Homo sapiens: one gene and its partners. The protein of the gene in region 5 interacts with the protein of the main gene of each other region in a biochemical or structural test. Each region holds a gene or a part of one and is shown on either strand. Other genes may lie near its edges. The genes, in order: CKAP2, KIAA1217, LMAN1L, SNX21, LRRK1, MTG1 and ODF2.

What was found.
Region 1: the proteins of LRRK1 (region 5) and CKAP2 form a complex in vitro, tested with the Homo sapiens proteins (2 studies listed by BioGRID and IntAct, with this or other methods).
Region 2: the proteins of LRRK1 (region 5) and KIAA1217 interact on a protein array, tested with the Homo sapiens proteins (one large-scale study listed by IntAct).
Region 3: the proteins of LRRK1 (region 5) and LMAN1L interact on a protein array, tested with the Homo sapiens proteins (one large-scale study listed by IntAct).
Region 4: the proteins of LRRK1 (region 5) and SNX21 form a complex in vitro, tested with the Homo sapiens proteins (2 studies listed by BioGRID and IntAct, with this or other methods).
Region 6: the proteins of LRRK1 (region 5) and MTG1 form a complex in vitro, tested with the Homo sapiens proteins (one large-scale study listed by BioGRID).
Region 7: the proteins of LRRK1 (region 5) and ODF2 form a complex in vitro, tested with the Homo sapiens proteins (2 studies listed by BioGRID and IntAct, with this or other methods).

What each region holds. Positions count from the first base shown.
Region 1 is NC_000013.11:52,461,978-52,465,477, reverse strand, and holds part of CKAP2 (cytoskeleton-associated protein 2), read right to left. Parts: intron 3,116-3,500; coding exon 2,911-3,115; intron 184-2,910; coding exon 13-183; coding exon of another isoform or gene 4-12; exon of another isoform or gene 1-3. UniProt on the Homo sapiens protein: Possesses microtubule stabilizing properties. Involved in regulating aneuploidy, cell cycling, and cell death in a p53/TP53-dependent manner.
Region 2 is NC_000010.11:24,474,638-24,478,137, reverse strand, and holds part of KIAA1217 (sickle tail protein homolog), read right to left. Parts: intron 1-3,500. UniProt on the Homo sapiens protein: Required for normal development of intervertebral disks.
Region 3 is NC_000015.10:74,811,482-74,815,634, reverse strand, and holds the start of LMAN1L (protein ERGIC-53-like precursor), read right to left. Parts: upstream 2,801-4,153; 5' UTR 2,781-2,800; coding exon 2,606-2,780; intron 1-2,605.
Region 4 is NC_000020.11:45,840,288-45,843,776, reverse strand, and holds the end of SNX21 (sorting nexin-21), read right to left. Parts: exon of another isoform or gene 3,472-3,489; coding exon of another isoform or gene 3,319-3,471; intron 3,139-3,318; coding exon 2,464-3,138; 3' UTR 1,940-2,463; coding exon of another isoform or gene 1,821-1,939; 3' UTR 1,745-1,820; coding exon of another isoform or gene 1,734-1,744; 3' UTR 501-1,733; downstream 1-500. Other genes in the region: ACOT8 (acyl-coenzyme A thioesterase 8), read left to right, coding at 56-250, 1,821-1,939. UniProt on the Homo sapiens protein: Binds to membranes enriched in phosphatidylinositol 3-phosphate (PtdIns(P3)) and phosphatidylinositol 4,5-bisphosphate. May be involved in several stages of intracellular trafficking.
Region 5 is NC_000015.10:101,069,357-101,072,856, reverse strand, and holds part of LRRK1 (leucine-rich repeat serine/threonine-protein kinase 1), read right to left. Parts: 3' UTR 1-3,500.
Region 6 is NC_000010.11:133,397,157-133,400,656, reverse strand, and holds part of MTG1 (mitochondrial ribosome-associated GTPase 1), read right to left. Parts: intron 2,223-3,500; coding exon 2,142-2,222; intron 1,488-2,141; coding exon 1,431-1,487; intron 1,129-1,430; coding exon 1,038-1,128; intron 1-1,037. UniProt on the Homo sapiens protein: Plays a role in the regulation of the mitochondrial ribosome assembly and of translational activity. Displays mitochondrial GTPase activity.
Region 7 is NC_000009.12:128,480,006-128,483,505, forward strand, and holds part of ODF2 (outer dense fiber protein 2), read left to right. Parts: intron 1-207; exon of another isoform or gene 208-811; intron 812-1,574; coding exon 1,575-1,646; intron 1,647-2,810; coding exon 2,811-2,882; intron 2,883-3,500. UniProt on the Homo sapiens protein: Seems to be a major component of sperm tail outer dense fibers (ODF).

The DNA of each region.
Region 1 (3,500 bases), on a different chromosome or scaffold from region 5:
TTTTTATCTTACCTGAGCCCCTGCCAGAATGGCTTTCTCATAGATTGCAATAATATTTTCAATAGGACTTGTGATTGGTTCAATAAGTGCAAGACATATCCAATACTTAACAAGCTTTTTGGCATCTGGAATATTTTTAATCAGGTCATTCAGTGTGACCAGTATATCTTCTTTTGGACATCCCTAAAAAAGCAAGAAAAAATGTGTGTAATATTTTTTAGCTTACAAAGTGGGAACAATAATTGAGCCTACTATAGTCAAGATCAATGATAACGATAGCCCTAAGCATAAAGCAAAAAAATGAAACATTAGTTGAGAAATTTATTAGTAAAAAATGAACACTTATTTGATCTTGATTTTATCCTCATATATATTGTGGGATTCCATTTGTTAATACCTTCTACCAAATGTTTATGAGTAAGAATAGTCTGCGGAGTTTTTTTTCCTCGTCTTTATCAGGTTTTGATATTAAGATTAAAATGAATCTGTAATGGTTTATGTCACAGTTACATATAATTAAATAATAGGGCAGAAAAAGTTCATAGTATCAAAAGGAAAAACTTAAACTGAGCAGAAATAAACTCTAATTCTATTCTATTAGAGACTCAAGAGTTTTCCTGATTGTAACTTTTACTGGTGTTCAGAACCACAAGAAGTTAAAAGATGCTCATGAAGAGTAAAGTTTGAAATCATACCTTGAATTCAGTTTTGCTGTGGATCTTACACACTAGTGGGTGACCAAAACAAGATTAAAGAGCAGTCAGGAAACAAAGATATTATCTATTATTAAACAGAATATTGTTCTGGAGCTGATTATTATACTCCATAGGATTTTGGTCCAAATAGCAAAATTCTGCAATAAATTCAAAAACATGATGATGTTGGCTTAGATGAATGGGATTGTTTTTTTTTTTTTTTTTTTTTGAGACGGAGTTTTGCTCTTGTTGCCCAGGCTGGAGTGCAACGGCACAATCTCGGCTCACTGCAACCTCTGCCTCCCAGGTTCAAGCGATTCTCCAGCCTCAGCCTTCTGAGTAGCTGAGATTACAGGCACCCGCCTCCATGCCCAGCTAATTTTTGTATTTTTAGTAGAGACAGAGTTTTACCATGTTGGCCAGGCTGGTCTCAAACTCCTGACCTTGGGTGATCCGCCCGCCTTGGCCTCCCAAAGTGCTGGGATTACAGGCGTGAGCCACCCCACCTGACCAGATGAATGGGATTTTTTTTTTGAGTATTTTAGGTAACTTAATCTGTGATAATAATGACTCACACAGTATTTGTGTTGCTAGTCTTTGGTAAAATGTGTAATGAACGTAAAAAATAATGTGTAAATATAATGAATAGATGTAAGAAACAAAATATTAGAAGCAGTAAGTAAATATCACCTCAGTGTATTACATATTAATTAGCTCAGAGAAATCAAATATTTGTAATTCAGTAAAAAAACCCAATTATCCCTTTGATACAGGTTGAGTATCCCTAATCTGAAAATCCAAAATCTGAAATCCAAAACTTTTGAGTATCAACATCACAATGCAGATGACCATCATTAACACTGCAGAAAATGTACCTACAGGCGACAAGGTGAAAGTATGCAACAGGCTTACTGAAGAACTAGAGCAGCATTTATCCAGAACAGAAAAAGAAATCATGTCCCTTTATAAAATCAAAGAGAAACTTCTAAGACAAAAACCATTGCTAATGAGGCAGATGACTCTGAAGTAAATATCTTAAAAAGCCACCCAGCAGAATGCCTCCTTATCCCTAGAGAACCCACTTCCTGGTCCCTCAACTGCTTCTGGTGTTTCTTCTCACCTAAAAAAATAAAACACGGTGTAAAATACCTCTTAATTAAACACAACATCATAGATGGAGATTGAAAACGTGCTGCTGTTTGTTGTTGCTATTGTCTAACAGCTGATACAGGCGTTCTGATGATGCTACTGTGCTGCTTAATTACTCTGAACATATTTTTCACTGTATTAATGTGTCTTTTTTTAAACTGTTAATTAATTATGTGTGAATAAATGTAAGAGAATAATTGCTTATTGGTAGCATGGAAATTCAGAGTGAGGAATGATGGTGTTGCCAAACAACCAGACTGTCCCATGGGTGGCTGACAAAGTGACACCTTTGCTTTCTAATGGTTCAATGTATACAAACTTTGCTTCATGCACAAAACTATAAAAAGTATTCTATCTTTAGGCTACGTGTATAAGCTGTATATAAAACATGAATGAGGCCGAGCGCAGTGGCTCACACCTGTAATCCCAGCACTTTGGGAGGCCGAGGTGGGTGGATCACATGAGGTCAGGAGTTTGAGACCAGCCTGACCAACATGGTGAAACCCTGTCTCTACTAAAAATACAAAAAATTAGCCAGGCGTGTGGTGCACACTTGTAATCCCAGCTACTCTGGAGGCTGAGGCAGGAGAAGGGCTTCAACCCAGGAGGCAGAGGTTACAGTGAGCTGAGATCACACCACTGCACTCCAGCTTGGGTGAGAGTGACTGTCTCAAAAGCAAACAAACAAACAAAACGTAAATGAACTTTGTGGATCTCATCCCCAAGATAACTCATTATGTATATGCAAATATTCCAAAATCCAACAAAAAACATCTTCAATTACTTCTGGTCCCAAGCATTTTGGATAAGGGATACTCAACCTGTATATTTATATGAACTCAATGCAAAATGTAGTCAGTTAAAGGCTAATAAGCTCACAATTAATGAATGAAGCAGTGTATCTCGCAATTAAATAATTGTTAAAATAACCTCACAGTTAATGTTAAGTCAACATAGTATCACCAACATCACCTGGTCAAAAAGACTGACAATATAATTTAATGAAATAATGCTTATGAAGGTAATTTGCAAACTATAAAATGCTAAGCAAATATAAAGACTCTACCTCATTAATCAAGTTCAGGCATTCAGAAAATGTGTTGTTTACTTTTTCAGTAAATAATCTTTGTTCATCTTCTTCTGCCATGGTAGTCCAAAAAGACCCAACTGGTTTTTCATTTTGTCCTGCAGGCTCATGCTGAGTAACTACTGAATTAGGGGGCCTTTTTAGCACTCTTCCTTTGCCAGCTTTCCACTCACTCAGACGAGCTCTATAGTTAGAAGCAGATATAAACGTTACTTTGAAATTGCTGACAGAACTCTGTCAAATAAAGTTAAAAGAAAAAATCATATTTTTAAGTAATCTTACTTTAATGGCATATATAGTTCACAAGCTTGAAGAAATATTAAACATATCAACGTCAATTATGCTCAATGATTCCATGAATGCATTTTTTGATTTGAGATTATAAAGTATTTCCCAATTATTATTAAGCATTTACCTTAGATTTTAAAAAGCAACCTTATAAAACATACTCAAACACAAAAACTTTTAGGTCATATTGTTCCACAATATAAATTTGCCTGCATATGACAGAAGAGAAACCATGAAAGAAAATTCTAATGCAGTCAAGGAAATTATAATCCAAATCTACA
Region 2 (3,500 bases), on a different chromosome or scaffold from region 5:
GCATAAGAACCCAGCAGTGCCAACAGAAAGCACAGCCACCGATTTCTCAGCCTCCCACTGGTGTTTTTGCAGCTTCACATCTTCGATGTAAAATGTCACTTGAGACTCTCATATGAAAAACACTCTCATATTTATTTGCTTTTTAATATTATGAAATTGCAACAGAAATTGGATTGGTTCTTTATACGACCCTGTGCTCATGAAGTTAAGCTTTAAGGGGTTGAAAATTCTTTAACAATACTTACACAGATTAAGCATTTCTAAATAACATCATGGTATAGATGAGACAATGGATTATAATTTTGTGCTTCGGTAATTGTTTCTGATGTTCCTGTTTTTAACATTTTTCTTTGACATAGTACTCAGATGCATTTAAAAAAATGAAGTCTACCAAGAATGCTGTCCTCTTTCTTCCCCTATTTCTGCATAATTGTGCTAATATACTAGCTAGGGCAGTTATATTTAAAATGGCATGTGTATATTTAGCAGCATAATTATGCAAATTCTACTGTGTTTATGATTGTAAATATCCTTTAGGAGCAGTTACTTAGCATCTAGTCCTGAAACAATTTTTGAAGAATTCTGGTTGAAATGTTTAGAATTCACTCCTGAATTAACTTCTCTGTTGTGTGGAGGTGGGGCTTATAGTTCTCATTTGCAAGGCAGAATACTGCACAGTGGTAAACAGCATGGAATATGTAGAATTCTTTAATAGTCCTGGACATTTTATGCCACCTACTGGCTTTGTGGCCTCGGGCAAGTTACTTAACCTCTCTGAGCCTCAGTTTCTCCATCTGTAAAAAGGAGATGATGATAGTACATATCTCACTGGGTTGTCATGATGATTACATCATATAATGTATAGAAACCACTTCACATAGTGCTTGGCTCATAAAAGGCTCTCAATAAATGATAGGTGCCATTCACCTCCTTCCTATACATTCCCCAGGAATGCTACATGTCAGCCTAGTTACCAAGATATCTAAAAGAGTTCAGGGCCAGATTCTGAGCTGTCCTTGGAGGAGGAAGTATGGCATGAGCTTCACCCTTGTCACTTTGTCCCATGTAAGAAACAATGGGGGAAGCATGTAGGAGTGCTGAGGGCAAAAGTTCCAGACTCAAGTTCTTTTGACCAGAGAATTATTCTTCACCTTTGACATGTGACTGAGGGGAGTTAGCGGGGAGTGTTTAGGTCTTTCAGCAATAGTGAGTCTAAATGTAGAGAGAATGTGTAGGTGTGTCTGTCTTGTGTGTGTGTCGTGTGTCTGTGTGTGTCTGTGTCTTTGTGTGTCCATGTGGTATGTGTGTGTCTCTGTGTGTCTGTGTGTCTATGTGCAGGTCTCTAGGAAAAGAGAATCTAACCGGCCCACATATACCCAAGCATTCCAATTCCACCCTCTGGAGATAAGCTGATTACAGGTGGGGAGTCACCTTGGCAAGATGTATGAGATAAAATTTTTCCTGTGCTATTTTACATTATGGGGAATGAAAAATGTGAACATGTAAAATTACATTCATAATTACAATCATATGTCAGAATACACTGGTGATAATGACTGTATTTTAGGTGAATATTCATCTGTTTTGTCAGTTTTTCTTATATTGTTAATCTGGAAATAGAATAATTTGGATTTTCTAAAAAGGTTTTCTAACATGTAAAACTGAAGTCCATAGAATTTTCTGAAATTTTACAAAATGGAAGTCTCTAGGGTTGGCAGATCTTTTTTAAAAAAGGGAGTGGAGGCTCTCAAAGAATACCCATAGTACCAAAAGCTAAAATCTTTCAAGATTTTGATCCCATACAGAGATGACTCCACAGGTCAGCAGAGGGTTTGTTTTATTCTCTCCATAACTAAACGTCTTGAAAAGTGAGGCTCAAGGATGTACATTAAGTTGTGTGTGCGTGGTAATCACACAGATGACACTGAGCTAGGTTCTGGAAAGAAGGCAGACACCATCTTTGGTTGGCCAAAAATTTTGATAATTTCAGCACTATTCCCAAAAGAATATTACATCTAAACTAATCTGTTTTCATGCAAATTCAGGTTTTTATCATCCAAGAACCGGGGTGGAAACAGTTCAATATGGTCATGGCAAAATCAAGCTCCTGATGCTCTTTTATCTAGGATAGGTCAGTGTGGGAGGTAGGATTCTGGCTCTCAACATTATATGCAGGAGACAAATTATCTTTATTGTTTTCTGGTCTAAATTCTTGCTCCCGTAAGTTCCATCCCCTCAGCAACATACCATTTCCCAACCAGCACCTCAAAGCCTGCCAAAGGGGACAGGTGTGTTATCCTTTCTGTGAAGTATGCAACACAGGCTTCCAAGACTTATCGCACATCTTGGTAGATTCCTCTCCAGATGTCACATTGGTCTGTTCCCATGAACCACTATGAGTGTTTATCCTATACCCCTTAGCTGTCTGCAGTGACGGGAAGAGTCCCTTTCTTTGATGCTTAGAATTTCACTTCATGAGGACTTTGGAAAGGAGAGAATGAATACTATTTTCCAATCCTTATTTTTTCTTAGTCCTGCATCATCAAGCCATTCACTGTTGTTGTTATTCTAGCTACATGAGAGAGTTAGAACTTTTGTTTCATTAATGATCCCAGAACTTTCATGTTCTTTCTCTTTCTGTCTCCTGGAATCTTTCTGCTATGATATTCCCTGTAACTGAACAAGTAAGAAGGGATTGCCCTTTCATAATAAAACTGTGCTAAAGAGGACTTCAGGGCTTTCTGACTTGTGTGTGAAAACAGTAAGGTAGACAGGTCACATTCCATTCACAATTTTGGCCTTCTTTTTACATGGTATATAATAGTAAGTGATATTAACATTTTTTAGTGAGAAGCAGTGGTTCTAATAAGGTATTGAATAACTGAATATCTAGACACCTTATTTTTCTTTTTTCTTTTGAGATGAAGTCTTGCTCTTGTCCCCCAGGCTGGAGTGTGATGGTGCGATCTTGGCTCACTGCAACCTCCACCTCCCAGGTTCAAGTGATTCTCCTGCCTCAGCCTCCCGAGTAGCTGAGATTACAGGCACCTGCCACCACACCCGACTAATTTTTGTATTTTTAATAGAGATGGATTTTCACCATGTTGGCCAGGCTTGTCTAGAACTCCTGAGCTCAGGTGATCCACCTGCCTCAGCCTCCCAAAGTGCTGGGATTACAGGCGTAAGCCACTGCACTTGGCCTGGACATCTTATTTTTCATACCCCTTGATTCATATATAACAATAGGTAGCAGCATGCTTAAACCTTCTTTGGACTCAATTTCTTTGGCTAGATTTTTATGATTATTATGTTGACTTGTTTCAACCAATTCAGGCTAGAGAAATTCCCTTTATCAAAATTAGCTTTTCTATTACTATATGAACTTTGGAAGGTTTTCAAGATAGAGTAGGAAGCTTCTGAATTGGTAAATTATAAAATATGTCTATTTAAAAAGAAATTCAAGTCCCCAGAGAGTCTTTCCCTGGAAAAATTTTGCTGAT
Region 3 (4,153 bases), about 26 Mb from region 5:
GGCCAGAGCTTCCTGGTGGACAGGACCTAGGGGGCATTCCAAGGTGAGGAAAGCAGGAAAGCAAAGATGTGAAGGTGAGAACCGGCCCACAGGACTGCGATGAAAGAATGCAGGATGGAGTATGTGTGTGAGAATTGCCACTGGCGGTGGTGGGGCGGGGAGGAAGGAGCCCTGCATGGTAGGAAAAAGGAATGGGAGAGAAACTGAGGCAGTCTTGGCAGGAACTGGGGGCAGGGAACTCAGAGGCCCTACTCGAGCTCGCTCCCCACCCTCCAACCTGCCAGCCTGGAACCTGGCCCAGGGCCCAGACTCTGCCAGGACGTTCTGGAGGCAGCTAATCCAGCCTGTTTGCTCTATAAAGGCCAGGGATGGGGGTAGGGAGGCTCAGAGCTGCAAGGCCACAAGTCCCAGGGCCTCTGGAAGCTGTCACTGCCTCTGAAATCCTTGCAGAAGGCTTTCAGCCTTACAAGGCCTGTGGGTGAGACCTTGCCCCAGACCATGGGCTCCTTCAGCCTCACTCTGCCTGGTATCTCTGGGCTGGGCACAGAGGAACATCAGGGTGAACGAATGAATGAACAGACAATGCACACATCACTGGGTGATCTTGGAGAAGGTGCCTCTGCTCCCTCACATGATCTGTGACACCCAGATTTGGCAAGGCCCATAGCAGTGAGTGTTGTATAAGTTTTGCCATCCTGGTCCTGAAGCAGGGCCCAGCTTGGTGCTGTGAGAAACAGCCCACCTTTTTGTTACCTCCTGTGTCTCTATGAAGGAGGACTGGAAGAAACCCTACTGACAGGGCCTATCATCTTAAAGGAATATTTTGGGCTGGGCGCGGTGGCTCATGCCTATAATCCCAGCACTTTGGGAAGCCGAGGCAGGCGGATCATCTGAGGTCAGTAGTTCAAGACCAGCCTGGCCAACATGGTGACAACCCGTCTCTACTTAAAAAATACAAAAATTAGGCTGGGCGCGGTGGCTCGCCTGTAATCCCAGCACTTTGGGAGGCCAAGGCGGGCGGATCACGAGGTCAGGAGATCGAAACCATCCTGGCTAACAAGGTGAAACCCCATCTCTACTAAAAGTACAAAAAATTAGCTGGGGGTGGTGGCAGGCACCTGTAGTCCCAGCTACTCGGGAGACTGAGGCAGGAGAATGGCATGAACCCAGGAGGTGGAGCTTGCAGTGAGCCGAGATCACGCCACTGCACTCCAGCCTGGGCAACAGAACGAGACTCCGTCTCAAAAAAAAAAAAACAAAAACAAAAACAAAAATTAGCTGCGTGTGGTGGCACACACCTGTAATCCCAGCTACTCAGGAGGCTGAGGCAGGAGAATCACTTGAATCTGGGAGGTGAAGGTTGCAGTGAGCCAAGATCACACCACTGCACTCCAGCCTGGGCAACAAGAGTGAAACTCCATCTCACAAAAAAAAAAGGGATATTTTGTCCTGGCTTTAGTTAGGAATCGTGCCATTTCTCAGAACTCACATCTTTTTTTTTTTTTTTTTTGAGCCAGAGTCTGGCTCTGTGCCCAGGCTGAAGTGCAATGGCAGGATCTCAGCTCACTGCAACCTTGGCCTCCCAGGTTCAAGCAATTCTCCTGCCTCAGCCTCCTGAGGAGCTGGGACTACAGGCGCACGCCACCACACCCAGCTAATTTTTGTATTTTTAGTAGAGTCAGGGTTTCACCATTTTGGCCAGGATGGTTTTCAACCTCTTGACCTCGTGATTCATCCGCCTTGGCCTCCCAAAGTGCTGGGATTACAGGCGTGAGCCACTGCACCTGGCCAAGAACTCACATTTTATAGACAGAAATCCACAGCCGATCTGCTTTCTGTCTTTGCTTTGCCTGCTAAGAGGCTCAGAATTAAATCCATGGCCCAACTCTCAGGTGGACAGACCTCACAGCATATGTTTTGGAAGCCATGCTCCTAGACTATTTCACGCTCCACTCTAATCCTCATTGTTCTTGCTCACTCCCTCTATCGTGTAGTTCCATCATCACAAACCCTTTTTTGAACAAGATCTGGTAGAAGACACACTCTTTGTAGGTCTGGGTTTGGAAGTCCCTGAATACAAACCTATGGGCTAAGATGCTCTCATGCCTGCTTCCACCCACAACACACATACAGGGAAGGGCTGGTGCCCACTCACCTGGGATGAGGATGCTTCCCTCCAGGTAGCCCCCAGTTCTCATGGCCAGCCACAGGCCCGCTGGGATGGAGCCGGGAGAGTGGAGGTTTGTGCTGGTCCACATTGCCTTCTGTGTGCCTGGGACTTAGTGTGTGAGCATGTGTCTGTGTGTTCACAGGTCAGAGGTAGAGGAAGGGCAGGGGTCCAAGGAGAGGCAGAGGAGAAGAGAGAAGTCCTGGGGCAGGGAAGCAGAGAGGCAGAGGAGAAACAGCTTGGGCAGGGGTGGGGGGTGTTGAGGCGGTGGAGCAGGAGACAAGCCTGGAAGGGGTCCTGGGGTGCCTGGCACTGTCCCAGGCCTTGCCCCACCCTGGACAGAGGATGGCTGTGACAGACCCACTCCCCACCAAGTCACAGCCCCTCCAGCACTTTGAGGGACCCTGGGCATAGCTGGTCCCCACCCCTGCCCCTCACCTCCATGATGGCTCCAGAAGGGTATTCCAGCCCCAGGCAATGCCAGCCTTGGGCCTTTGAAGCTGAGCTTGTACTCAAACCTGCGTAGAGGAGGACACCCCGTCTCAGGGCTGTGGGGGTCCAGGAGCAGGAGGAGAAGGCAGAATAAGGGACCTGGACCACTGACCGCCGGCATCGTGAAGGCGCCTGAAGTCTGGGCCCCGGGGTAGATCATAGCTGGGAGGCCGGGGAGGGGATCCTGGGATAGGGCCAGGCAGGGAGGAGCTGGGGACTGGCCAGGAGCTGGGTTTTGGCACTGTCCTCTCCCTCTATCTCCAGCATAGACATCCTGTTCCTTCCAGGCCTGCTGTCAGGCCCCGCCCATCCCTCACCTCCAGTCTGACGTGGGCAGCGGGACCCCACGACAACCTGAGCTCTGCCCCTGCTCCTGACTCAGGCCATCTTTCTGTCTCCCATCACTTCCAGCAGTTGGATGCGGCAGAGGGGAAGGGGGGGTGCCCAGGGTTGGCCCCCACCCTTCAGCAGCCCTGGCCTCCCCTCCCAGTTAGGGAGACAGGCCTCCACATTCTGCCTGTGTCCCCCAGCATGGATGGCACATCTATCTGGACACCCATCCTTCTCTCCTCCCTGCCCCCTCTCTCCCTCTCCCGAATTCCCCCAGGCTCATCCTTCCAAGCAGCCTGGTTTCCTCAACAAAAGCATTACATGGAAAAAAGAAGGGAGTCTTTAGAGACAGCACAAAAACGCAACGTGCAGACCTTGTTTGGAGCCAAATTTTAACCCAACTGCAAAAAAAAAAAAAGATATTGGGGAAATTTGAACAATGGATATTTTTGAACAATGGATATTTGACTATATTGAGGAATTGTTAAAAATTTTAGGGCACTGTGGCTCATGTCTGTAATCTTAGCACTTTGGGAGCCCAAGGCAGGTGGATCACCTGAGGTCAGGAGTTCGAGACCAGCCTGGCCAACATTGTGAAACTCTGTCTCTACTAAAAAAAAATACAAAAAATTAGCCAGGCCTGGTGGTGCATGCCTGTAATCCCAGCTACTTGGGAGGCTGAGGCAGGAGAATCACTTGAACCTGGGAGGCAGAGATTGTAGTGAGCGGAGATTGCACCATTGCACTCCAGCCTGGGTGATAAGAGCAAAAATCCATTTCGAAAAAAAAAATTGAGAACTAATATGGTATTGTGGTTATGTTTTTTATTTTTTATTTTATTTTATTTATTTATTTTTTGAGACGGAGTCTCGCTCTATCGCCCGGGCTGGAGTGCAGTGGCGCGATCTTGGCTCACTGCAAGCTCTGCCTCCCGGGTTCACACCATTCTTCTGCCTCAGCCTCCCAAGTAGCTGGGACTACAGGTGCCCGCCACCATGCCTGGCTAATTTTTTGTATTTTTTAGTAGAGATGGGATTTCACCGTGTTAACCAGGGTGGTCTCGATCTTCTGACCTCGTGATCCGCCTGACTTGGCCTCCCAAAGTGTTGGGATTACAGGCGTGAGCCACTGCGCCTGGCCTTTTTTTTTTTTTTTGAGAGGTGG
Region 4 (3,489 bases), on a different chromosome or scaffold from region 5:
GCAGGTCCTGAGCTGGAAAGCCCAGGAGCCCAGGGCTGATGGGGACCTGTTGCAGGCGAGGGCGACATGAAGATGCACTGCTGCGTGGCCGCCTATATCTCCGACTATGCCTTCTTGGGCACTGCACTGCTGCCTCACCAGTGGCAGCACAAGGTGCACTTCATGGTCTCACTGGACCATTCCATGTGGTTCCACGCCCCCTTCCGAGCTGACCACTGGATGCTCTATGAATGCGAGAGCCCCTGGGCCGGTGAGTGTGGGGCCGTGTGGGACAAGGGCACTGACCTTGAGTGGCAGGAGCCTGCTTTCTTGGGTGATGCTGATTTCCCGACTTCCTGTGTGGCGCTGCACAGGTCACTTCCTTTCCTTCCCTCCCAGGCTTTGGCATCTTCATCTTCAAAATGAGAGGGTGAGGCCGGGACACCTGCTCTGCTCTAAATTTCTAGAATGTGCTGGAAATGTGATTCACCTTCTCCCAGGGACCCAGTTCTAGTCCCAAAACCAGTTCAGATTCTTTGTATTACAATAGGCAAATCATATCTTCCATCTGAACCTCAGTTTCCTCATCTAAACAAAGAGGGTTACATTACAGCAGTGGTATCCAAACCCGCAGTCCATCAGACTGCCATTTGGGGATGCCTTTTCAAAATAGATTCTGATTCCACCCTCAAGATTCTCACTCAGTAGGTCTTGGATAAGGTCCAGGAAACTGTATTTTTAAGTTCTCTAAGTGATTCTGATTAACCTGATTGGGATCGGGGCATTCAGTGGTCCCTAAGGGCCTGCTTGGACCTTCCTTGCAGGGGAGAGAAACAAGACTCGTTCATCAATGTCTAGCTTCAGAACCCTGACCTCCTTTCCAAGGGAGTACATTTCAAATGAAGAAAAGCTTTGCTTGATAAACCAAGGACAAAACTCAAGGATTCTTTATACTCAGATAAGGGGTATTCTCAAGTACCAATAGCATCACAATCCAAGATTGATAACCTTGAAGTGAGGACATGGGTTCAGATTTGGCTTCATCATGGGGCCAAATTCCTGACCCTCTCTGGATTTCAGTCCTGGTCTGGAAAACTGGACAACACATAACTGCTTCATTTGGCTACTGTGAGAACTGAGTGAGCTCTGCTATGTGTAAGGGAAACCAGCAATCATCCTCATAAACATCAAACTTGGGCCCAAAGCCAGCAAGGGAGAAAGAGTCTCCAGATGGGGAGGGAAGAGGCCAGACCTCATGGCCTCAAGTCCTCTCTTCTGAGTCCTTTCTTCCCCTTGGTGGTGGTAGTGGGGATATTTTTCATGAATTACCACTTGGAGGACCTGGCTTGATTTATTATACAGGGAGCCGATAGTTTTCCTAACACAAGTGGTCAGAGGTACAGCAGTTCTGCTTGGCCGAGCTGTTGAAGGAGACTGTTCTCAGAGCTCCTCCCTCTGTGATCTTTTTGAGGAAGCGAGGAGAGGTGTGAAAGTGCTTTTAAACTGTCAACTGGGGTTCCTGTGGGAGGAGTTACCCCTCAATGACGGTCCATAATAAGCTCATGAAGGGGCATTTGGAGCAGCCACGACACTCAGTGCACCCTTGTGTGGGGCAGCCCTGCCCTGGGCCAGACCCTTTGCAAGAAGTCCACTTGGAGGTTGGGCATGGTGATGTGCGCCTGTAATCCCAGCTGCTCAGGAGGCTGAGGCGGGAGGATCCCTTGAACCCAGGCGCTTGAGACCAGCCTGGCAACTTAGTGAGACTCTGTTTCAGGAAAAAAAAAAAAAGTGTATTTGGCTGTTCTGAAGCAGGCCATCATCACCCTTCACCTCACCCACAGGTGGCTCTCGGGGGCTGGTCCATGGGCGGCTGTGGCGTCAGGATGGAGTCCTAGCTGTGACCTGTGCCCAGGAGGGCGTGATCCGAGTGAAGCCCCAGGTCTCAGAGAGCAAGCTGTAGCCAGAGGTACCAGCTTCGCCTGGGGCTTCAAGAACCTCCCATCTATCCCCATTCCTGAGACAGGAGTTACAGTCCCTTTTGGCCCTCACATCCAATAAAGAGACTGATACCACTGGAGTGGCTGGCTTTTAATTCCCCTGGGCCAGACCTGCAGCCTTGCCTTCATCCCTTAACTCCAGGACTCCAGGGGCAGAGTCCCTGGCCTTCAGCCAAGAGGCCTTGCCAGCTTGGGGGCCCACCAACAAGGGAACATTGCCCCAACCTGTGCCACAGCCCCCCGGCTGTTTATAGGCTGGAGAGGCTGTGTCAGACTTCCCTGTACTACACAAGGGCAACCCCAGCCAAAGCTCACCCTGAGCCTAGCTCAACAGAAGTTTCCTTGATCTGCTTCACATTCTCTTTTGGAACTTCTAGGGGCTCCCAGCACCCTCTGCAGCCTCCCAGCTATTCTGTTCTCATCAGGTCCTTCCCCTGCCTTCTGGGGCAACCCCTCTCCTCACAGTGGCCTTAAATCTAGGCAAGGGTTAGTCCAGCACCTCCTTGATGAGCAATTCTTTGAGACTGGGGGGTGGTGTGGGGGTAAGGCCTGCCTCCTGCAGGGCTTGGAGCCGAGCCTCTGATTGACGTTTGTCCAGGCCCAGGCGCCAGGAGAGCCGGACATGGGCCTCCAGAAAGGGTGCCAGCAAAGGGTGGAGGCTCTTGTCCCCAAGCAGCTGCAGGGCCTTCTCACAGCATGCCCGGGCCTCTCCAGGGTCTTCCAGCTCCTGGTGGCACACGGCCAGCCCAGCCAGGGTCAGCAGGGGGCGGTCTGGGCCAGAGGGGGTGCCCAGCTGGGCTTGCAGCTGCCAGGCATTGGCCCAGAGTGCCAGAGCCTCACGATAGAGGCCAGTACAGGTGAGGCTCTGTGCCCGCCGCAGCTCCGGCAGCACGAAGAAGTCCTGCAGGTCCGGGGCATGGCGCAGCTCAGGCACTGCCTGCAGGTGACCCAAAAACTGCTCAAAGGCCCGGCTACGGCGGGCAATGGTCTCTGCAGTAAAATTCCGGCGCAGCCGCTTACGGGGGAAGGAGATGGCAGCCATTGGGCCCCGGAATTGCCGCTGCAGGTTTCGGTGCAGCCGCTCAAAGTCCGAGTAACGGCGAGAGATCTGGGCTGGCTGGCAATCTGGCGGTCCTGGGCCGATCACGGCGAGGGTGTAGAGCTGCAGGGAGGGTGGGTGTCAGGGCAAATGCAAGTTGTCCACGGGCCCGTTCCCTCCCCATCCTTCCCCATCCCCCACACTCCCAGCTGTACCTCCCCACCTCTTCCTTTCACCCCTGGGACAGCACCCAGGAGGGCGGGAGCTGCTGCGCAGTGGCGGGGAAGCCCAGTCCCATCTTACCTGAGGTTTGTCTGAAATGACCCAGGCCCAAGGCAGCAAGAAGAGAGAAAGACAGAGATGAGCTTCAGTGCCCGGGGCTGCTGCCCCTTTTTTTGTACTCCCTTCCCATAGAGCATTAGTTCTTCTGACAGCCCCCTCTGGAAAACCAGACATAAGCTGAAACCCCAGCCA
Region 5 (3,500 bases):
GGCGCAGGTGGGCTGAGTCCGAAAAGGGAGTCAGTGAAGGGAGATAGGCGTGAGGCCGTTTTATAAGATTTGGGTAGGTAAAGGAAAAAGGGGGTTTGTTCTCTGGCGGGCAGGAGTGGGGGTGGCAACGTGCTCAGTGGGGGAGCTTTTTGAGCCAGGATGAGCCAGGAGAAGGAATTTCATAAGATAATGTCATCAGTTAAGTCAAGGACCGGCCTTTTTCACTTCTTTTGTGGTGGAATGTCATCAGTTAAGGCGGGGCAGGGCATATTCACTTCTTTTGTGATTCTTCAGTTACTTCAGGCCATCTAGGCATATACGTGCAAGTCACAGGGGATGCGATGGCTTGGCTTGGGCTCAGAGGCCTGACGCACTGTGCTGCAAGCTGCTTTCAAACAAATGCATTTATTATATCTTGGAGAACATTCCAGTCCAGCAGTTAGTGCTGCCTGCCTCTTTGACAGGCTGCAGAGGATGGCACTGTTGCATGTGCAGGAATTTTATGACCTCCCTCATGATAGAGGTTGGGGTTGCTTCCTGTTTGGGGCCATATTCTAAGAGATGCTATAGTGAACATCCTTGTTCTGTATCTTTGGGCACTTTTACCAAGATTTCAGGACCAAATACTTAAGTGGAACTGCTGGGTCAGAGGGTATGTGCATTTGAAATTTTGGTAGATAAGTCCAGAATGCCCTCCAAGGGGTAGCCTCCAACTACCCCCTCGTTAATCCACCCTCCATTCAGCAAAGTGAGTTGTAAAGTTGACTGAATCATCTAATAATCCTGCTTAAAACTGCCAGGAGCTTCCGCGGAGACCCCCACTTGCAATTCTGTGTGCACAGTCCCCTCCTTCAAGGCCGCAGCCACGCCAGGCTCTCCTGTCCCTCCCACACAGTGGCTTGAACCCACAACAGGGTCTTTGCATGTGCAAGGCCCTTGCACCCAGTGCCCTCAGAGCTCCATGGAATGCCTTCTTCCCATTCCTCAGTCTCACATTGTACCTCCTGGTGCAGGCTGCAGGCCTCGCCAGCCTCAGTCAAATGTAACGTTCCTAGGCCAAGCCACGAATTGCCCAACTGGGTGGTCCGGCTGCCCTGCTATCTCACTTGTTTGTGTGCTTATTGTCAACTCTACCTATGAGGAGTGAGCTCCTAAAAGCAGAGATTCGGCCAGCGCAGGTAGCTCACACCTGTAATCCCAGCACTTTGGGAGGATGAGGCGGGCGGATCACCTGAGCTCAGGAGTTCAAGACCATCCTGGCCAACATGGTGAAACCCCGTTTCTACTGAAAATACAAAAATTATCCAGGCATTGTGGTGCACGCCTGTAATCGCAGCTACTCGGGAGGCTGAGGCAGGAGAATTGCTTGAACCTGGGAGGCGGAGGTGGCAGTGAGCTGAGATCGCGCCATTGCACTCCAGCCTGGGCAACAGAGCGAGACTCCGTCTCAAAAAACAAAAACAAAACAAAACAAAAAAAACACAGAGATTCTTGACTGTGTCTCCGGTCACAGTGCCTGACACTTAGTAGGTGTTTAAGAAGGAGATGCTGGCTGGTTACCACCCTCTGCCAACATGAGGGTGGTAAGTGACATCTATCTGAGATGCCTGTGGTCCAGCTGATGTTGACAGGGTCCTCAGGGTGCCCCCCACCCCCTCACTGAAGCATGAGCTCTTCTACACCCGCCAGAGGTCACTGGGCAGAGGCCAAAGTTGCAGGGACCATGCTGAATGCTGGGCCCATCCCAGCAACATTTTACTGTTGTGGAGACTGTTTCCCTGCTGTTGGGTGAGGTCAAGCATTGATGTTTAAGGGTCTGTCTGTTTCTTTGTAATTCAATTGCTGCCCATGCCCTTAACCTGTTTGCCTTTCCGGTTTTCTGTTTCTTATTGACATTACGAACTCTCTGTAATGAAGATAAGTGAGGTCTTTGTCTCTCATTTGTGTTGCAATGTTTTTTTTTCTCAGTTGCTAGTCTTTTAGGCTTTGGACTAATTTTCCACGTAAGTTTCAATTTCATGGAGTCAAGTTCATTAGTCATTTCCTGTATTTTTTTTTTTTTTTTAAGAGTTGGGTCTTGCTCTGTCACCCAGGCTAGAAAGCTGGTGTGATCATAGCTCACTGTAACCTCCAACTCCCAGGCTCAAGGGTTCCTCCTGCCTTGGCTCCTGGGTAGCTGGGACTTTAGGCCTGTATGATTTCTAACTGTGATGTGATGAGATCCCCTCCCCTGGCTCTGTGAGGCCTGGGGCTGGGCTTTTCCAGGAGTAGGAGAGGGTGAATTTTGGTGCCTGCAAAGCAGCCTGGCCTCGCGTGATGCCAAAGCAAAAGCTTGGGGCCTGGGGCAGATGGAATCTGGCTTGCATCTGGGGGTTAACTGGGCAGTTGTGGGGCACTGGAATGAGAGGAGAGGGAGAGTGGGACTCCTGAGACCCTGCTGTGGGATGAGGGTGAGAGAATGGCAGGGAGGTAGACAGGAAGCACAGACCCTCAGCCCCCTGGGACTTGGTGCCCAGGTTGGTAAAAAAAAAAAAAAAAAAAAAAAAAAGAGTGGGGGGACTCGCTTTTTCCAAGCCTGTGACTGACAGAGCAGCGTCTCCACCCATGGAAGCTGCTCAGGGGCCACCTGCATGTTGGCACAGTGGGCAAGGAGGGGCTGCCCATTATCCCCAGACAGCGAGTGGGTCTGGGAGGGACTGAGCCCGTGCTGTGGTCATAAGCGCTCAAAAGACAGAGGCCACAGCTTCGTTCTTGAAAGAATCTGTTTATTTTGAGATTAAAAGAGTCTCATCTCCCTGCATATCCAGCAAATACTAAATTTGATCTTTTTAATTTTAGAAAAGGGTCAACAAACTTCAGCTGGAGTATGATCTCTCTTTCAAACTCCCATTCTGGTTTAAGGAGCCCCAAAGGGTAACTCTTGACAAAAAAGTGGCTATGTTTGCACATGTGTGTGCATATGTGTGTGCATGTGTGTAATGCATGTGCATAGTTTATAAAATGTTTGCTGTTGTATCCATAAATCCCCTGTGGACAACGTTCCTTTTCGTACTCCGCTGTACACGTGTGCAGTGAATGTTTAGCAAATACATAATTTGGTATAAATCCCATACAATGTGATTTCACAACCAGAAGCCTGACTGCTGAGATATTACTGAATTTTTTAAAGTGATAAACAAGATTATTATGTGCAAACAAACAGGGCCTGTGCTCCAGCTGCGTCCAAATTTACTTGACAAAGCTATAAACACAAGGCCCTTTCTGAAGTCCTGCTGATTGAGTTTCCCCTTCCTTTTGTCGGTGGAGAGGAATGTAAAGGCTAAGCGGGTGCACTCGGACTGTGTGCCTCTGGGCTTGCTGGCGGTGGCACTTAAAGGAACTCATTCATTCTCTGGATGGGGCAACACTCCTCACCCGGGATCCCCCAAGGGCTTTCCCACACGGAGACCTTCCCGAACACAGAGACATCTGATCTTGGCTTGCCCAAGCTGGCCCAGGCC
Region 6 (3,500 bases), on a different chromosome or scaffold from region 5:
TAAAAAATAATACGCTTAAAAATAAACTTAAAAGAATAAATGACTGTAACAATGCTCCAATTAGCACCAAAAACACCCTCTCTGTAAAATAACAGTTCACCGTAGTTTAAAGCCTTCAGATTTGCACATCATGAATGGGTTTGTTAATAAATGCCTTATTAATATGAAAAATGAAGCCAACAAGGACTTGAATTAAACTTGAAAATACTTAAGGAAAAGAGCCCACGGGGCAGTGAAGGGTGCTCGGGGCTCCTGCTTTGAATCAGAGTCTGAGAACAGGCACAGAGGGAGGAAAGGAGCGCCTGCGACTCCGGAGTCCAGGAACCCTCCAGCAAAGGCAAGGCGGACGCCATGGAGGAATGGCCTTGCAGCCTCCCTGCCTGATAATCCAGCCCCGTCTACTTCACACGCTTTGTATTCTCTGGATCAAAGGGATTTTTTTTCTTTTCTTTTCTTTTTTTTTTTGAGACGGAGTCTCGCTCTGTCGCCCAGGCTGGAACGCAGTGGCACAATCTCAACTCACTGCAAGCTCCGCCTCCCGGGTTCACGCCATTCTCCTGCCTCAGCCTCCTAAGTGGCTGGGACTACAGGTGCCCGCCACCACACCCACCTAATTTTTCGTATTTTTAGTAGAGACGGGGTTTCACCGTTTCAGCAAGAATGGTCTCAATCTCCTGACCTCATGATCCGCCCGCCTCGGCCTCTCAAAGTGCTGGGATTACAGGCGTGAGCCATGCACCCGGCCAAAGGGATTTAAATAAATGAACAAATATCAAAGTTTAGAAAAGCCATCTTCATGTTAAAGATTTTAAAAGAGAGAAAAATTAAGTGTGAAATTCACAGAACGACCTGGTCCCACTGTTCAGCCCTCCTGTGAACTGGACTGAACGAGACAAGATGTGCTCTGGGGCTGCGGGGTCAGCAGAAGACTGGCAGTGCTCCTCGGGCACGTCCCCTCCAAGAAAGATGGTGGCATCAGCACATCAGCCACACGCGCCAGTACCTTTCCTGAGGTGATCAGCCGCACGCGCCAGTACCTTTCCTGAGGTGCTGCCTCCGGAGGGAGTTGATGAGGGAGGACTTGCCCACGTTGGGGACCCCAATGACCATGATACAGTACTCCAGGTTCTGCGCAGGCAGAGAGAGGGGTCACAGGGCCCACCGTGGCCGCTAGAGCCTGAGACTCTGCAACCCCACCCAGGCAAGGGGACCCCAGGCCAGGTCAGCTCAGGGAAGAAGGGAGGTTAACGCCGAGGCTCTGCCCACCCAGCGGGGACGGCCTCGGCCCTTTCCACTGAAGAGAATGAGAGGACAAAGGAGGGGCCTCCCTGCCTGGGGCGCTGCGCCTTCTCCTTGGAGAGGCCAGGCAGGAGGGGCTGGCCCATCCCACGCCCGCCTCCCACTCCCAGCTCTGGGCCCCACCAACCAACCTCTTTTCGGTGGTAGCGGTGGCTTCTCCCAATCAGTTCAGTGACCATCGGGATGATCTGCAACAAACACCCACTCATGGAGCCACCCCAGGTCGGACGTCTGTGCACTGACCCGCTCCTTCTGCCACCTCAGAACAGGATTAGGGATTCCAGTGTCTCCACTTTCACATATCCGTTAGGAAAACAGAAACCTCCTATCTGGAATTCTACCCAACATTTCATAGGCAAACTGGGCGTCACCCTTCATCTGGAGGTAGCACACCAAGTATCCGGTGTTGGGAAACTGGAGTTCTGTCCAGGTCACAGATGTCAGACTGAGCTCTGGGGCCGGGGACCACCTATGCCCGTCCCCTCCCATCAAAAACAAGCAGGGCAGACCCGGGGCTTCAGTGACAGCTGTAACTACCTTTTAATGAAGAAACACATCAAGCCAGAAAATTCTACCACATACAACTGGAAACATGAGCTACCTGAGTCTCCAAAAGACTCTGACCACCTACAACCCTGGAATGCGTCTACAGCCTGACCTTGTGCCCTCAGTACAGGGAGACCCACTTGCCCCAGGAGATCGCATCCGTGTGTGGCAGCTGGAAACCAACACCTAGGATCTTTTCCAAAGCTCTGCTTCTTACTAAAGCATAAAACAGTTTATAATGCTCCTCGAACCTACTGAAGCAGAAGCGTCAGAGAGAGCACAGACGAAAAGCCTACCTGCTTGACATTTTCATCCTTTACACAGTTGGTAAAAATGACATTTTTTAGGCCTTCTCCTTCTAAGTGTTGCATAATTTTCTGAAAGACACAAAACATTTCTATGTTACTTTTTTTACTGGAGTCTTGGCTCTGTCACCCAGGCTGGAGTGCAGTAGCACAATCTCGGCTCCCTGCAACCTCCGCCTCCCTGGTTCAAGCGATTCTCATGCCTCAGCCTCCCAAGTAGCAGGGATTACAGGCATGCGCCACCACGCCCAGATAATTTTTGAATTCACTGGCCTTAACATGCAGTGAAACTAGTGCAAAGCAGTATCATATTTCTAAACATCAGTGCTGTTAATCATCTGACCTAAAGTATGACTGATGTTTAAATCAACAAGTCCTTCACTGATTCAGCTGGTTTTATTTAGCTGTCCACGAAGATGACACGGATGGAGAGATCAAACATAAGACACACACCTGAAGCCACACACTCTGGGTAGTAAATGTACTTGGGTGTCCCTGCTCAGGGAGGCAGAAGGCAGGGCCACCCAGGGGCAAGTCTACCTCTCTCCCGATTCTTCAGAAGCACTGGCCTTTCTCTGACCAGGTCAGACACTGCTGTGCCCTATACTAGACGGCCACCCACCAGTCTACAAAAAGTCACATTTTCAAAGGCAGGAGTTGCCACTGATATGACGTAAAAGTACCAACTAGTGAAAACACTTGCGATGATTTAAAAAAAAAAAAAAAACAGGCTGGACGCAGTGACTCACGCCTGTAATACCAGCACTTTGGGAGGCCGAGGCGGGCGGATCATGAGGTCAGGAGATTGAGACCATCCTGGCTAACACAGTGAAACCCCGTCTCTACTAAAGATACAAAAAATTAGCCGGGCATGGTGGCGGGCGCCTGTAGTCCCGGCTGCTCAGGAGGCTGAGGCAGGAGAATGGCGTGAACCCGGGAGGCAGAGCTTGCAGTGAGTCAAGATTGCGCCACTGCACTCCAGCCTGGGCGACAGAGCAAGACTCTGCCTCAAAAAAAAAAAAAGAAAATAAGACACAAGACAAAGAGATAAAAGAAAAGACAGCTGTGCCTGGGGGACCACTACCACCAAGATGCAGAGACCGGTAGTGGCCCCAAATGTCTGGCTGCACTAATATTTATTGGATACAAAGCAAAAGGGGCAGGGTAAGGAGTGTGAGCCATCTCCAATGACAGGTAAGGTCACGTGGGTCATGTGTCCACTGGACAAGGGGCCCTTCCCTGCCTGGCAGCCAAGGCAGAGAGAGAGGGAGAAAGAGAGACAGCTTACGCCATTATTTCTGCTTATCAGAGACTTTCGGTACTTTCACTAATTTTGCTACTGCTATCTAA
Region 7 (3,500 bases), on a different chromosome or scaffold from region 5:
CAGCTACTGAGGAGGCTGAGGTGGGAGGATCACTTGAGTCCAGGATATCAAGGTTGCAGTGAGCTATGATCCATGATTACAACATGCACTCCAGCTTGGGTGACAGAGCTAGACTGTGTCTCTAAAAGAAATAAAAAGGTTAAAATGACAAGTTTTATGTTACATATATTTTACCACAATTTTTAAAAGTTAATAATGGAATATACCAAAGCCATTTAATTGTATACTTTATTTTTTCTTCTAGCTTTATTGAGGTATATTTGACAAACAGAAGTAGTATACATTTTAAGATGTTCATCGTGATGATTTGATACCCATATACATTGTAAAGTGACCACCTCAATCAAGCTGATTAACACATCCATCACGTCACATGGTTACCTTTTTGTGTGTGTGTGGTGACAACACTTAAGATCTCCTAGCAGATTTCAAGTATATAATACATCATTAATTATAGTCACCATGCTGTACACTTTAAATGGTGTTCAAATTTATATCTCAATAAAGCTGTTTTTAAAAATCAAGTAACAGCTGGGCATGGTGGCTCACGCCTGTAATCCCAGCACTTTGGGAGGCCAAGGCGGGCAGATCACCTGAGGTCAGGAGTTTGAGACCAGCCTGGCTAACATGGTGAAACCCTGTCTCTGCTAAAAATACAAAAATTAGCCGGGCGTGGTGGCAGTTATCTGTAATCCCAGCTACTCGGGAGGCTGAGGCAGGAGAATCGCTTGAACCTGGGAGGCAGAGGTTGCAGTGAGCCGAGATCGTGCCATCGCACTCCAGCCTGGGGGACAAGAGCGAGACTTCCTCTCTAAAAAATAAAAAAAATTAAAAAAAATTAACACATAAATACAATATGATATTATTTTCCTAAAGTTACACATGAATCCCTTTCCCCTTCCCCCAGAGACAAACAGTATTTCTCTTGATGCAGCAAAATGCTGTTTCATTACAGAGAAACAGTATTTCAATACAGTATTCTGTACAGTATTTTCAATACAGAGAAATACAGTATTTCTCTGTAGATGTAGAGAAAAAGGATGGGAAGGATACTCCTCAAACTAATAGCAGTAGGGTAGGGTTTGGAGGTGGGTACAGGAGGAACTGTAGCTTTATTAGCATTCACTATTTTATAGTGAGAATATATTCACATTACTTTTCAAATTAGAACTACAGTTTTTTGGGCCAGGTGTGGTGGCTCACACCTGTAATCCCAGCACTTGGGGAGGCCAAAGCAGGCAGATTGTTTGAACCCAGGAGTTCAAGACCAGCCTGGGCAAACAGGGAGACCCTCCAACTCTACAAATAATAATAATGTTTAAAAAGTTGGGCATGGTAGTGCATGCTTGTTGTTCCAGCTACTTTGGAGGCTGAGATGGGAGGATGGCTTGAGCCCAGAAGGACCAGGCTGCAGTGAGCCATGATTGCACCACTGCACTCCAGCCTGGGCAACAGAGTAAGACTCTAAAAAAAAAAAAAAATACAATTTTTGGAAAAGGTAAAGAATCAATAAAATGTAGACATCTGGGTTTATTGCTTAATGACTTGACTTTTTCCTTTGCCTTTCTTTGAAGGATTCTGAAAGACTAATGGAGCAACAAGGAGCACTGCTGAAACGGCTGGCGGAGGCCGACTCAGAGAAAGCGGTAACTAAGGCTGCCCTTGTCTACTCTAGTGGGTACAGGTGGCAAGAGCGTCGTTCCACTACAAAGTGTAGAGGTGCTTGGATCAAGGCAGGAGGGCTGGAGCATTTCGCTAGGTCTTAGTTTCACGATCTGTAAAATGGGCTGATGTCCTCCTGTCACGCTTGTTCTGATAGGCTTGTCTAGTTAGTTACTTGAGACCTTGAGCCACAAAGCTGGACACCAACATAGAGAGGGTAATGATGATGTTGGATTTGTAAATCATCCGTGTCTGTTAAAGCTGGATTTCCATCAAATTAGTATTATGGATTCAAAGCCATCAAAAAGTACACACCTTTGGACTCAGTAATCCTAATTCTAGGAATCTCTCCCAAAGCAGCATGTTCCAAAGTCTGTTCATGGAACCCTAAGTTCCTCAAGATGTTAATGAGTGCAAGAAACCGAAGGGGAGGTTCCATAGCCAGTTAAATTTGGGAAACCATAGGCTGGCCTGAACATGAAGTTCAACAGCTTCTTTCAAGACTTTTTTGGAGTGTCTGCTGTATTAATGCTTTTGTAAGTCTCCAAGAGAGGGGAGGGAGACGGAGGCCCAGTTTCCCAAGGTGTGGTCTGTGGCCTCTGATGCTTAGTTGAGGAAGGAGTGGAGATGCAGCAAGCTCGGCGATAATGCCTAAATGTGCATTCCCAGCTCAAGAACCCTTGTTAAGTTATGATATACATCAGTAACTTGAACCGTCAAGCAGCTCTTTCAAAAGACACAGAAGATTTAATCACATTATGGTAAACATGAGCTTTTAGGCTATGGAACGAAGTAGGCATATGACTTTTTTTTTTTAACGGTGCTGAGCATATGAGTTTCAATGTGCATTAACTGGTTATCTCTGCATGGGGGGTTACGGGGTTTCTTTGGAGGATTTTTTTGGTGTGTTCTCAATGTTTTCTACAGTTAACATTGCTGTTCTTAAATTGCAAAATAAATACATGTTCATTGTTTTAAAAAAATGTTTTAATGCATATGTTAGGTGCTTCCTACCAGAATCTCTGACATGGGCCAATGTATGTAGGACCTTGGGCCCCAGTGGCCAGGTACTCACAAATCTCTGTCCTCCCTGGGCCGGGCCTCTTTGCCCTTCCCAGGGGCACCTGACAGCCTGTGTTCTCTCCCAGCGCCTGCTGTTACTGCTGCAAGACAAGGACAAGGAGGTGGAAGAGCTCCTTCAGGAAATACAATGTGAGAAGGTAGTGTGCTTTTTTTTTTTTTTTTTTTAGACGGAGTCTCGCTCTGTCGCCAGGCTGGAGTGCAATGGCGCGATCTCAGCTCGCTGCAACCTCTGCCTCCCGGATTTGAGTGATTCTCCTGCCTCAGCCTCCCGAGTAGCTGGGACTACAGGCGTGCGCCACCACGCCCAGCTAATTTTTGTATTTTTAGTAGAGACGGGGTTTCACCATGTTGGCCAGGATGGTCTTGATCTCTTGACCTCGTGATCTGCCTGCCTCGGCCTCCCAAAGTGCTGGATTACAGGCATGAGCCACTGCGCCCAGCCGCAGTTGTGCATTTTTATGAGCCAGTAGAATATAATGGATATGCAGAGAGCTGGGTTCAAATCCTGTCTTTGGGCCGGGTGCAGTAGCTCATGTCTGGCACTTTTTCGAGACCAGCCTAGGCCACTCCCTAGCACTTTGGGAGGCCAATGCAGGAGGACTCATTGAGGCCAGGAGTTTGAGACTGTCCTGGGCAACACAGGGAGACCCCATCTCTACAAAATTAAAATTAAAATTAAAAAATCAGCCAGGTGTGGTGGCATGCACCTGTAGTTCCAGCTACTCTGGATGCTGAGATGGGAGGATCACTTGAGC